Homo sapiens: one gene and its partners. The protein of the gene in region 1 purifies or fractionates together with the protein of each later gene. This does not show direct contact. Each region holds a gene or a part of one and is shown in the gene's direction. Other genes may lie near its edges. The genes, in order: ASB9, PRPSAP1 and ME1.

The links.
Region 2: the proteins of ASB9 (region 1) and PRPSAP1 purify together in Homo sapiens (affinity purification with mass spectrometry, with the first as the bait; one large-scale study listed by BioGRID). This does not show direct contact.
Region 3: the proteins of ASB9 (region 1) and ME1 purify together in Homo sapiens (co-immunoprecipitation; one large-scale study listed by IntAct). This does not show direct contact.

Annotation. Positions count from the first base shown.
Region 1 is NC_000023.11:15,245,969-15,249,622, reverse strand, and holds part of ASB9 (ankyrin repeat and SOCS box protein 9), read left to right. Parts: intron 1-687; coding exon 688-879; coding exon of another isoform or gene 880-908; exon of another isoform or gene 909-940; intron 941-3,654. UniProt on the Homo sapiens protein: Substrate-recognition component of a cullin-5-RING E3 ubiquitin-protein ligase complex (ECS complex, also named CRL5 complex), which mediates the ubiquitination and subsequent proteasomal degradation of target proteins.
Region 2 is NC_000017.11:76,326,278-76,329,931, reverse strand, and holds part of PRPSAP1 (phosphoribosyl pyrophosphate synthase-associated protein 1), read left to right. Parts: intron 1-1,069; coding exon 1,070-1,215; intron 1,216-3,654. UniProt on the Homo sapiens protein: Seems to play a negative regulatory role in 5-phosphoribose 1-diphosphate synthesis.
Region 3 is NC_000006.12:83,224,949-83,228,602, reverse strand, and holds part of ME1 (NADP-dependent malic enzyme), read left to right. Parts: intron 1-1,125; coding exon 1,126-1,268; intron 1,269-3,654. UniProt on the Homo sapiens protein: Catalyzes the oxidative decarboxylation of (S)-malate in the presence of NADP(+) and divalent metal ions, and decarboxylation of oxaloacetate.

The DNA of each region.
Region 1 (3,654 bases):
TTTACCAGAGGGATGGCAGCTCAGGCAAAGCCACATGTTCCCACATGTCACAGTGAAAGCTAGGCTCTGGGCTGGGGTGGGGATTTGTTAAGAGTGTAAGAGTGGAATTGGGTGGGGACAGTCCTAGAAATCCACCTTACTCCTGAAAGGGAGAACTTTGCCACCTTCCCTGTGATCTTGGGATTGGCCAGTCCAATCCAGGGGATACCCCCATGAGTTGGTTGGTTGCTTTTCAAAGTCCAAATCACCAGTCCCAAGTGTCCAGTTTTACACCCTGTGGCAGCTGCACACCAGGTGAGTTTGGCTGCTTGGTGTAGGCTGGATTTCACCATCTAGTCTCTCCGTCAGGCTGTACTGGCTAATACTTAGGTTCCATTAATAATAATGTGGAGCTTTTATGTCACTAGGATTTTTCTTATATGCATCATGCCTATCTATGTACAGTGCTGAAAGGCAAATTTTTAACTTTCTATGCTATATTCCTCATGCTGTACATTCAATAACATTATCAGGTGGGATTTTCCCCACATTATTAAATGGAATCACATCATCTCCCATTTTTCCAGGATTGCTGTGCTCAATATGGATCCCCTCTTGTTAGGAAATTTTGGGGCTCGGGGCTTTGAAAAGCCCCGATGGTTGGATTCTGCTCCTTGCTGACTCTTTTTTGTTCTCGTGACTGTTTAGGAGCGGACGTGAACCAAGGGAAAGGTCAGGATTCCCCACTTCATGCAGTGGCCAGGACAGCCAGTGAAGAGCTGGCCTGCCTGCTCATGGATTTTGGAGCGGACACCCAGGCCAAGAATGCTGAAGGCAAACGTCCTGTGGAGCTGGTGCCTCCAGAGAGCCCCTTGGCCCAGCTCTTCTTGGAGAGAGAAGGTGCTTCTTTGCCAAAACCTAAGCCCTAATCTGTTGACATCCCTTGGGGCTCTAGTAGAAGGCAGGTATTTGGCAATTTCTGGCTCCCATTCCTATAAAAAGATCATTCTCTGACATCACCAAATCTGGGAAGTTGAGATAATTCAATATTCAATGAGATACAGTACTGGTCACAGTACAGTAAATAACTGTCCTGCTATTTAGCATATTGGATACAGGTTTTTGGGATGATCTAATATTCATTATGGGGTAGGCCAGTTTTTTAAAAATTAAGATACTGTTTTAAAATTTTAGTATTACATTTATTTAAAACATGCTTTAGAATGAGGCAGCAGAGTCCTCTTTGGGGTTGTAAGAGGCCGCAGGATATCTTGTTGAACCACAGATGGGCCAGACTACTGGACACTTCGTTTCTGGGCTTAAAATGCAGCTGTTTAAGAGTTTAGGGTTCACACCAATCCAAAGATATTTACTATTATAAATTAACCAATGATAAGTCCACACTTCTCTATAAGTAAGAACTGAGACTCCCAACTCGAACAATGAAATATTGTGGTTGAGCAGTGTGTATGGAAGTAGGGCTTTGAGGCCTGGGCTGGGCTGGGGAACAAAGACACCTCAAGTTGGGGAGCCACCTCTTGCAATCTTCATGGGCTCAGAGGCAGTTGAGAAACCAGCTCAGTACTTCTTTTCTTACCGGAGTATGGACTCTGAAGTCTTAGGGATTCTGGGACTTTGAAGCAGGCCTTCCTACCAGAAGGATTCTGATGTTATACAATCTAGTTATTTTCTCCCCACATGATGAGCAGTAAGGTTGGCTTTGGGCAGAACTGTAAAGTGGGCTAAGGAATCCTTCTTCCTCCTACTCTCACTGCCCCAGGGTACTTGCAGTCAAGTCCCTGCCTGGGGGCATGCCAAACAAGGCCTATGCTCCTGAGCAGTGCTGGTCAGGCAGAAAAGATTGACTCCAGGCCTGGACAAGGAACAGTCCAGTAGAGGCCCCTTACAGTTAAGCAGTGGGATAATCATGGAGCAGTTCTATCTGCATTTTAATAATTACTTGTTTTGAAAAAGTTCTATGTCTACGAGGCCCATAAAAATATCTTAATTTTTAAACAATCAGAATAAAAAATGAATAGAACAACATGGATTGTAATCATCTTTATACCAACACAGTTGTGAAATAGAATTTTTAATTGTTTTCACTGAGAAAGGGATTCATAAAGGCAAAAGTGCCTCAGGTCCCCCTCAGTCATAACGTAGGGCATACGTTAATGTAGGATGTATATGTCCCCTCCTCCATCAAACAACCTCATAGCATTCTCAAATTGCCTCCCCTGGCTTTTCCCTTCTGCTTTATTTCCCAAAGCCATTCCTAGAGACAGTAATTACTTTAATTTTGAATTTACGTTTTGCACGGTGACAGTGTGGCCTATGGTCCCACTAGTTTATGAGGTGTCATTTGCTGCTGGAGAGAATCACTACTTGTTTTGCCTCCATGAGTCAATTTTGGGGTTTTGGTGTAGTCACCTCTCAGAGGGCTCGGAGCCCACAAGAAATGGGGTCAGGAAAGTGCAGAAAACTAGACCTGTGGATTGCTCACAGCAGTTTCTGTCTCTGGGTGCCCCTACATTCATTTGCTTCAGTCCACCTGTTTCTCCGTTTCCTGGGGAAGGGAATTTATTCAATTACTGTCCTCTTTCAATGGTATGGCAACAGGAGAATGTTGGTAAAACCCAACCATGTTCTGAATTGGGCTTTGCGTGGGTGTTAGGAAAGGTAAGATTTTCCCGTTTTCTGAGAAAAGGGAAAAGATTTTAAGAATATTGCCACCTCACCCTTGATAAGCATCTAAAGCAGTGTTTGCTCAATTAAAACCTAGAAATGACTGTCAGCCCAACATGACCGCAGCCCCCATCCCCCCTCACCCAGTGCACTTTGGCTTTAAAACATCAATGGTTGTTGCTGGCCGGGCACGGTGGCTCACGCCTGTAATCTCCACACTTTGGGAGGCCAAGGTGGGTGGATCATGAGTTCAGGAGATAGAGACCATCCTGGCTAACACGGTGAAACCCCGTCTCTTCTAAAAATACAAAAAAAATTAGCCGGGCGTGGTGGCAGGCACCTGTAGTCCCAGGTACTCGGGAGGCTGAGGCAGGAGAATGGTGTGAACCTGGGAAGTGGAGCTTGCAGTGAGCTGAGATCACACCACTGCACTCCAGCCTGGGCGACAGAGTGAGACTCAGTCTCAAAAAACAAAAAACAAAACATCAATGGTTGTTGCTGGGGGAAAAAAGAAATCAAGGCCCAAAGGAATATGCCAATTCATAAATACACAATTAGCTGGTTTTATTACCGAGCAAAGCAAACCCCTTGAATATTTGCAGGTGCCAGCAAGTGACTGCAAATCTGTAGTGGGTTTTCAGCTCTGTGTCTATGGACTTGAAGCTACAGTTGTTTTACATTGTCTTACTTGTAGTAAACAGCAGCATTCAGTTGGCATCAGTAGTTATTAATACACTGAGTTTCCTGTGACATCCCACTTTTCTTAATTCTCTATCAGGCCTGCTCTGAGATCTTGTTATTTGTAATGCTTTATCAGTACCTCCTACGGTTGCCTCTGACAGCGTTTCTAGCACAGATGATCAGTCACATGTTTCAACATTCCTTAGTGAGGTTAGATTAGGTTCAGTTTCCCCACAGTGTGCTTTTTGCTGCTCGTTAATATGTGCCTTGAGAACACTGGGAAGCCGTTCATTTTTAAATGCTTTGAGT
Region 2 (3,654 bases), on another chromosome or scaffold:
TCATGTTAACCCCTCCATCGTTGTCATGTCCCATGCCACACACAGCTTTATCTCCAGCCTCCAGACAGCACACATGATCGCTGAGTTGCTCAGCTTTCCTCTGGGAAAACAAAGTTCCTTCAAGTTCTCAGAGAAAGGAAAGCAATGAGGCTATGAGCATTTTTCAAGCAATGGTTTTTTTTTTTGTTTTTTTTTTGAAATGGAGTTTCATTCTGTCACCTAGGCTGGAGTGCAATGGCGCGATCTCGGCTCACTGCAACCTCCGCCTCCTGGGTTCAAGCAGCTCTCCTGCCTCAGCCTCCCCAGTAGCTGGGATTACAGGCGCCTGTCACCACTCCTGGCTAGTTTTTTGTATTTTTAGTAGAGATGGGGTTTCACCATGTTCATCAGACTAGTCTTGAACTCCTGACCTCAAGTGATCTGTCTGCCTTGGTCTCCCAAAGTGCTGGGTTTACAGGCGTAAGCCACTGTGCCCGGCCCAGGCAATGGTTTTTAACGTTGTTCTTTCTTCTGAAGATGACTATCAGAATATTGGACAAAGGATAGAATCAAAATTATCTAGAATCAGGGCCAGGCGGGGTGGCTCACGCCTGTAATTCCAGCACTTTGGGAGGCCAAAGCGGGAGATCGCTTGAGCCCAGGGGTTCAAGACCAGCCTGGGCAACATAGACCCCGTCTCTACAAAATACAAAAAATAGCCAGTTGTGGCAACACATGCCTGTGGTCCCCGCTACTCGGGAGGTTGAGGTGGGAGGATCACCTGAGCCTCAGGAGGTTGAGGCTGCAGTGAGCCATGTTGACGCCACTGCACTCCAGCCTGGGTGACAGTGAGACCTTGTCTCAAAAAAAAAAAAAAATGTCTAGAATCAGATACAATCCCAAACCCTAACTCACGTGCCCTTTGAGTCATTTACATGCTGGCCTGGGCCTCACATTCTCATTTATATAAATAATGCCTTTGTATGTCCCTGAAACGTTAAATATTTTCATTTTATGGTTAAAAAATGATGCCGTAGTGATGCGTGGGATTTCTTCCTGTCAGTTTCACCATTTCCCTTTGTCCTTCTAGGGCCCAGTCCTATGCGGAGAGACTGCGTCTGGGTTTGGCCGTCATTCACGGGGAAGCTCAGTGCACGGAACTGGACATGGACGATGGTCGTCACTCCCCGCCTATGGTCAAAAATGCTACTGTGCACCCAGGCCTGGAGTTGCCATGTAAGATGAGCTCTGTGTTTTTATTTTATTTGTAAATTGAAGAAAGTTTTTTTTTGTTGGTTTTGTTGGTTTTGTTGTTGTTGTTTTGTTTTGTTTTGTTTTGTTTTTGAGATGGAGTCTCACTCTGTCACCCAGGCTAGAGTGCAGTGGCGTGATCTTGGCTGACTGCAACCTCTGCCTCCTGGGTTCAAGCAATTCTCCTGCCTCAGCCTCGTGAGTGGCAAAGATTACAGGTGTGTGCCACCACGCCCAGCTAATTTTTGTATTTTTAGTAGAGACAGGGTTTCACCATGTTGGCCAGGCTGGTCTCAAACTCCAGACCTCGTGATCTGCTCCAGACCTGGTGATCTGCTCGCCTCAGCCTCCCAGAGTGCTGGGATTACAGGCATGAGCCACTGCACCTGGCCCTGAAGAAAGTTTTAAGTAGTATGAATGGCTAGGAGTTATCGACTATGTAGATATATGCTGTCTTGTTGTTTTTTAATAATGGAATGGTATTTGCTATCCTCCGCCTTTTTTTTTTTTTTTTTGAGAAAGGATCTCCCCCTGTTGCTCTGTACAGTGGCACAGTCATGGCTCACTGCAGCCTTGACCGGGGCGCAAGTGATTCTCCCACCTCCGCCTCCTGGGTAGCTGGGACTGTAGGGGTACACTACCATGCCTGGATAGTTTTCTGTTCCTTTTTTTTTCTTTTTGTATGGAGACGGGGCTCCCTGCATTGCCCAGGCTGGTTTTGAACTTCTTTGCTCAAACAATCCTCCTGTCATGGTCTCCCAAAATGCCGAGATTACATAAGATTACAGACATGAGCCCCATGCCAGGCCCGATTTCCTCTTTTGTAAAAGGAAGTTGTGTTATACACATTTGTAGACTGTGTATGGACGGTTCTGCGTAGCACTCAGCATTCAGACGGTGTTTGATAATTTTAGCTTCAGTAAAAAAGTTGTATGTGTGATGGTGTGAAATCTTAAGCTTTTACATTATCATAAGCTGGGTGACAGCTGTTGATCAAATACCAGGCTTTGGGGATCAGGTAACTTTTATTTTTACTTATTTATTTATTTTGAGATGGAGTCTCACTCTGTCGCCAGGCTGGAGTGCAGTGGTGCAATCTTGGCTCACTGCAACCTCTTCCTCCCGGGTTCAAGCAATTCTCCTGCCTCAGCCTCTCCAGTGGCTGGGGCTATAGGTGCGCGCCAACACGCCGAGCTAATTTTTGTATTTTTAGTAGAGATGAGCTTTCACCATGTTGGCCAGGATGGTCTCGATCTCTTGACATTGTGATCCGCCTGCCTCAGCCTCCCAAAGTGCTGGGATTACAGGTGTGAGCCACCGTGCCCGGCCTATTTTTATTTATTTTTATTTTGTTTGAGACTGAACTCGTTCTGTCGCCCAGGCTGGAGTGCAGTGGCATGATCTTGGCTCACTGCAGCCTCCGCCTCTTGGGTTCAAGCAGTTCTCCTGTCTCAGCCTCCCAAGTAGCTGTGACTTCAGGCACACACCACCACACCCAGCTAATTTTTGTATTTTTAGTAGAGACAGGGTTTTACCATGTTGGTCAGGCTGGTCTCGAGCTGCTAACCTTAGGTCATCCGCCTGCCTCGACCTCCCAGTGTGCTGGGATTACAGGTGTGAGCCACCGTGCCAAGCCGTAATCTGCATTTTTAGCTTTTTATTTTCAACTGACTTTAGACTTAAAGTTGAAAGAATAGTACAGATTTCCAGCATATGCTCTTCACTCGGAGTCCCCAAATTTAACATTTATATACATGGGGTTTTTTTTTTTCCACCATTTGAGGGTGAGTTGCAGACGTAATGTCCCTTCATTCCTAAATACCTTCGTGTATATTTGTAAAGACAAAAGACTCTTATATAACCAGAGTATCATTATCAGACTCAGGAAGCTAACATTGCTGTAACACTGTAATCTACAGACCTTACTCAGGTTTCACCAGTGGTCCCAGCAGTGTCCTTTAGAGCAAAAGAATAAACTTGTTTTCTTGTTCAAGACCTAACCCAGGGTCACACATTGCATTTAGTTGTCATTTCTTTTTAGTCTCATTTAATCTGGAGTGGCTGCTTTATTCTTTGTTTCTTATGACCTTGATACTTTTGAACAGTGCGATCAAGTGATTTTGTAGACTCTCCCTTAATTGGGGCTTGTTTGTGTCCTCAGGATTAGATTCAGGTTATGCATTTTTGGCAGAAAATCACAGGAAACACATGATGTGTCCCATTACTGGTGATGTGCATTCTGATAAGTTGGTTAAGGTTTCTCTGGCAGGTTTCTCCACTGTAAAGTTACTCTTTTTTTTTTCCTCTTTGTAATTAATACTACCTCATGTTAAGACTATGTTTTAACTGTAAATATTCTGCTTCTCATCAAAATGAACATCTACTGATGATTCTTGCCTGAATCAATTATTGACTGTGATTGTT
Region 3 (3,654 bases), on another chromosome or scaffold:
TGTTAATACCTGGCACGTTCAGCACTTTTCTAGGCTTGATTACTCCAGATAGACAGTGGTTCTCAAATAAGAGGGATTTTTGCCCTGCAGGAAACATTTGGCAATGTCTGGAAGCTTTGAGTTGTCTTAACTAGGGTAGCGGGGTTGGAAGGGAGTAAAGGGAGGGGCTACTGACATCTAGCAGATAGAGGCAGCGGAATGATTCTACTAAATATCCTGTAGTGCACTGGACAGCCCCTGCGACAAGGAATTATCCAGCCTAAAATGTCAATAGTGCTGAGGTTGAGAAATACTGCAGTAGATAAGACCCTCCTGGAAGACAGGGATCACATCTCACAAATCTTTATTTTCCTTATAGCACTTAATACAGTACTTACACAATGCATGTGCAGTGCAAGACTTTAAAGTGGTTTTAGAAAACTCAAAGGAATTTATGAAACTTTATTCTTTATTTTGTGCATATATAATTTTGATTTTTACCTTGTATTATACTCCATTCCTACAAGCTCTTGTGAAACAGATGACAACGTTGAAAATAATGATGATAACTACAATAAAAGAAGTACTTACTCCATGACAGGAACTTTACTAAGTGTTTAATATTGTTTTTACAAAATATATTCTGTCAATAATCTTATTGTTTTTCATTTCCATTATGCTAATTGCTTTATTCTTCTGTTAAAGTTACTTCAGTGGGTGGTACTTTACTTTTGCAGATGAATCAGATGGTTGTCTTAAGTGATAGCGTTGGTTTATAAAACTTAATTGCTTTGTAGCCTGACAAGACTGAAATATACTCATAGAATTGCTTATAAAGAAAGTTTACACATTAGATACAAATTTCCAAGTGATTGGTAACTAACTCAATGTACTATGGAAGCCAAATATTATCTTTAGTTTTTAATAGATATTTGTAGATTTGTGACCCTAAGGATTGTAAGGATTGTTGGCATTAACAAACTTGCCTCTTTTTGTCACTATACTTGAATACAAATAGTTTATATAGCATTTTGTTTAGGGTCTATTAGAAAATGAGCTGATAGATATCATTGATTTGAGGCATGGTCTTCTTGTGTGAATTAACCAATGATAGTGTTAATTACCAGCTTCATATTTCTTCATTAGGAGTTGCTGCAATTGGTGGTGCATTCTCAGAACAAATTCTCAAAGATATGGCTGCCTTCAATGAACGGCCTATTATTTTTGCTTTGAGTAATCCAACTAGCAAAGCAGAATGTTCTGCAGAGCAGTGCTACAAAATAACCAAGGTAAAGTAAAACTATAACAGATATTTTAATAATCAAATTTTTATTCATTATAGGGAGGCCTAGGATATCTAAGGTGCTTACTGTTTAAGTTTAAAAATTATACAACCAAAATGGAAAGAAAAGCACACAAATCAGAGGGATAAGAACTATTTCCTTTTCTAGAATGTTGTATAAATCCTCTTCTTCAACAAAATAAAATACATATTTTAATGTTTTACTGATAATTTTCCACAAGTGATTTGGAAATAGATATCTAAGATTTAAACATAAAAGTTAAATAGAAAGGAAGCAGCTTGGTTCTAGAGGCTTATTAAAATAGCTTTTAACTAGCTATTCCCAAACACTGAAGCATACAATGTAAAACCACAACCTTATTTTTGCTTTGCTAAATCCTGGGTTTGGGTTTTGGTACTATGGGTGGAACATTTGGGCAACTATCTTGACATCCAGCCAGACTGGGATAGGAGTCCTCAATGCTTCAACATTTTACTATGATTTATTTTATACCATGTTTGTACTAATATGTATTTGGCTGATATGCTGAAAGGAGCCTTTTTTCCCTTCAAAGACTTTAAAATATCATTACAACAAAATAGAGGTTGAGTCATATCTATCTAAAATGTTTATTTTGGAAAGAAATCCAAAATGAACTAGAGAGGTAAACATGAACGCTATGTCACTCTGCATTAACTGGAACTTAATGGCTCTATTTTAATCATATATCCTTAAATGCTCAATACTAGAATTAGTGATTTTTCTTTTTGGCAAGGAGCCACTCCATTGTTTATCTCTCTTATTTGGGATGGCATCAGTGTTCTCACTGATTTTAATTTTTATCTCATCTCTAGATTGGGGAATTTGCCTCACATTATTCAGTAGTCCTTAAATCCTTAAAGGAAAAAAAAGTCCTTTCAGCAACAACCAAGTCTTAGCATCATGCCTTGCACCTACTAGGCATATAATAAACAAGTGTTTAATTAATTATTTTGTCTTAATATATCTCAACAGGCCTCAAGGGTTAAGAGACTTATCTATAACACACATAAACAAAATTAGCCAAATTTATGTAGTTGTATTTTAAACTTTGAATGTGTCTGATATAAATGTATGCCTCAACTCTTTCTTATCATCTTGCCTAATGTTCTATGTTTTTCTACATAAAACATTGAAAGTTATTTTGAGGATGAAAATTTAGACACTGGTTTGGCTAAAGGATTGGAGAAAAAGGAAAGGTCTGCCTGTTGCTGGATGTGAGTTTCTGCTACTGTAGGCACAGGTGAAGATAGGAAAGGTTAAGTTACAATATACAGAAAGACTATTGAACCATAAAAATATAATCTAAAAATGGTATGGGAAGGTTCCCTTCACCATGTTAATAACATATATATATGAGAATATTTAGCTAGCTACAGTACTGTCATTTATTTAATGACATTTCTCCTTAAAATATGGTGATTATAGAAAGGCAGGAAGAGTGGGAGTGCAGGAGTGGGGGAGATATATATATATATATATATATATATATAATGTTACAGGCCTCTTTCTCAAATATAATTTTCCAAAACCTTTATATATGAAGTAATAATTTAGTTACATTAGAAAGTTGTTTATAACAAAATGTTTTATCTGCTAAAGAGCTTAAGGTATCAGACTTGTCTGAAAACAAAACCGAATTCTGTGCAAAACATAACAGTGTCTTATAAACAGCTAGATGAGAATTTGTTTTTCTGCCTCATCTATTTTCATCTTTTTGTCTCTCAAAGAAGGTTGAATTTCTGTTATACAACTTTAAGAACAACTAAAAGGTATATTATGACATTTGCTAAAAATAGGTTAATATTAATATCATTATTTAGACTCTAGATCCAAGAGATATGAAAGTTAAAACCCATTCTGTCATCGTTTAAACTATGCCTTGGGGATTTGATGCTTTAGACTTTTCAAATAGATTTCTTAGACTGTGATGCTTTATTTGTTTAGGGTTTCTGATTCCTACTTTGAAGCCTAAATACTCTCAACTAGATGTCCACTCTCACCATCACAGACAAATGTTCTTTTGATTAGCAATATGAAATGCAGCACCTAACAGGCCCTAGTTAATGCCTTTTTTTTTTTTTTTTTTTTTTTTTGAGATGGAGTCTCGCTCTGTCACCCAGGCTGGAGTGCAATGAATGGCACGATCTCGGCTCACTGCAACCTCCGCCTCCCAGTTTCAAGCAGTTCTCCTGCCTCAGCTTCCTGAGTAGCTGGGATTACAGGTGCCCACCACCACACCCAGCTAATTTTTGTATTTTTAGTAGAGATGGGCTTTCACCATGTTGGCCAGGCTGGTCTCCAACTCCTGACCTCAAGTCATCCACCCTCCTCGACCTCCCAAAGTGCTGGG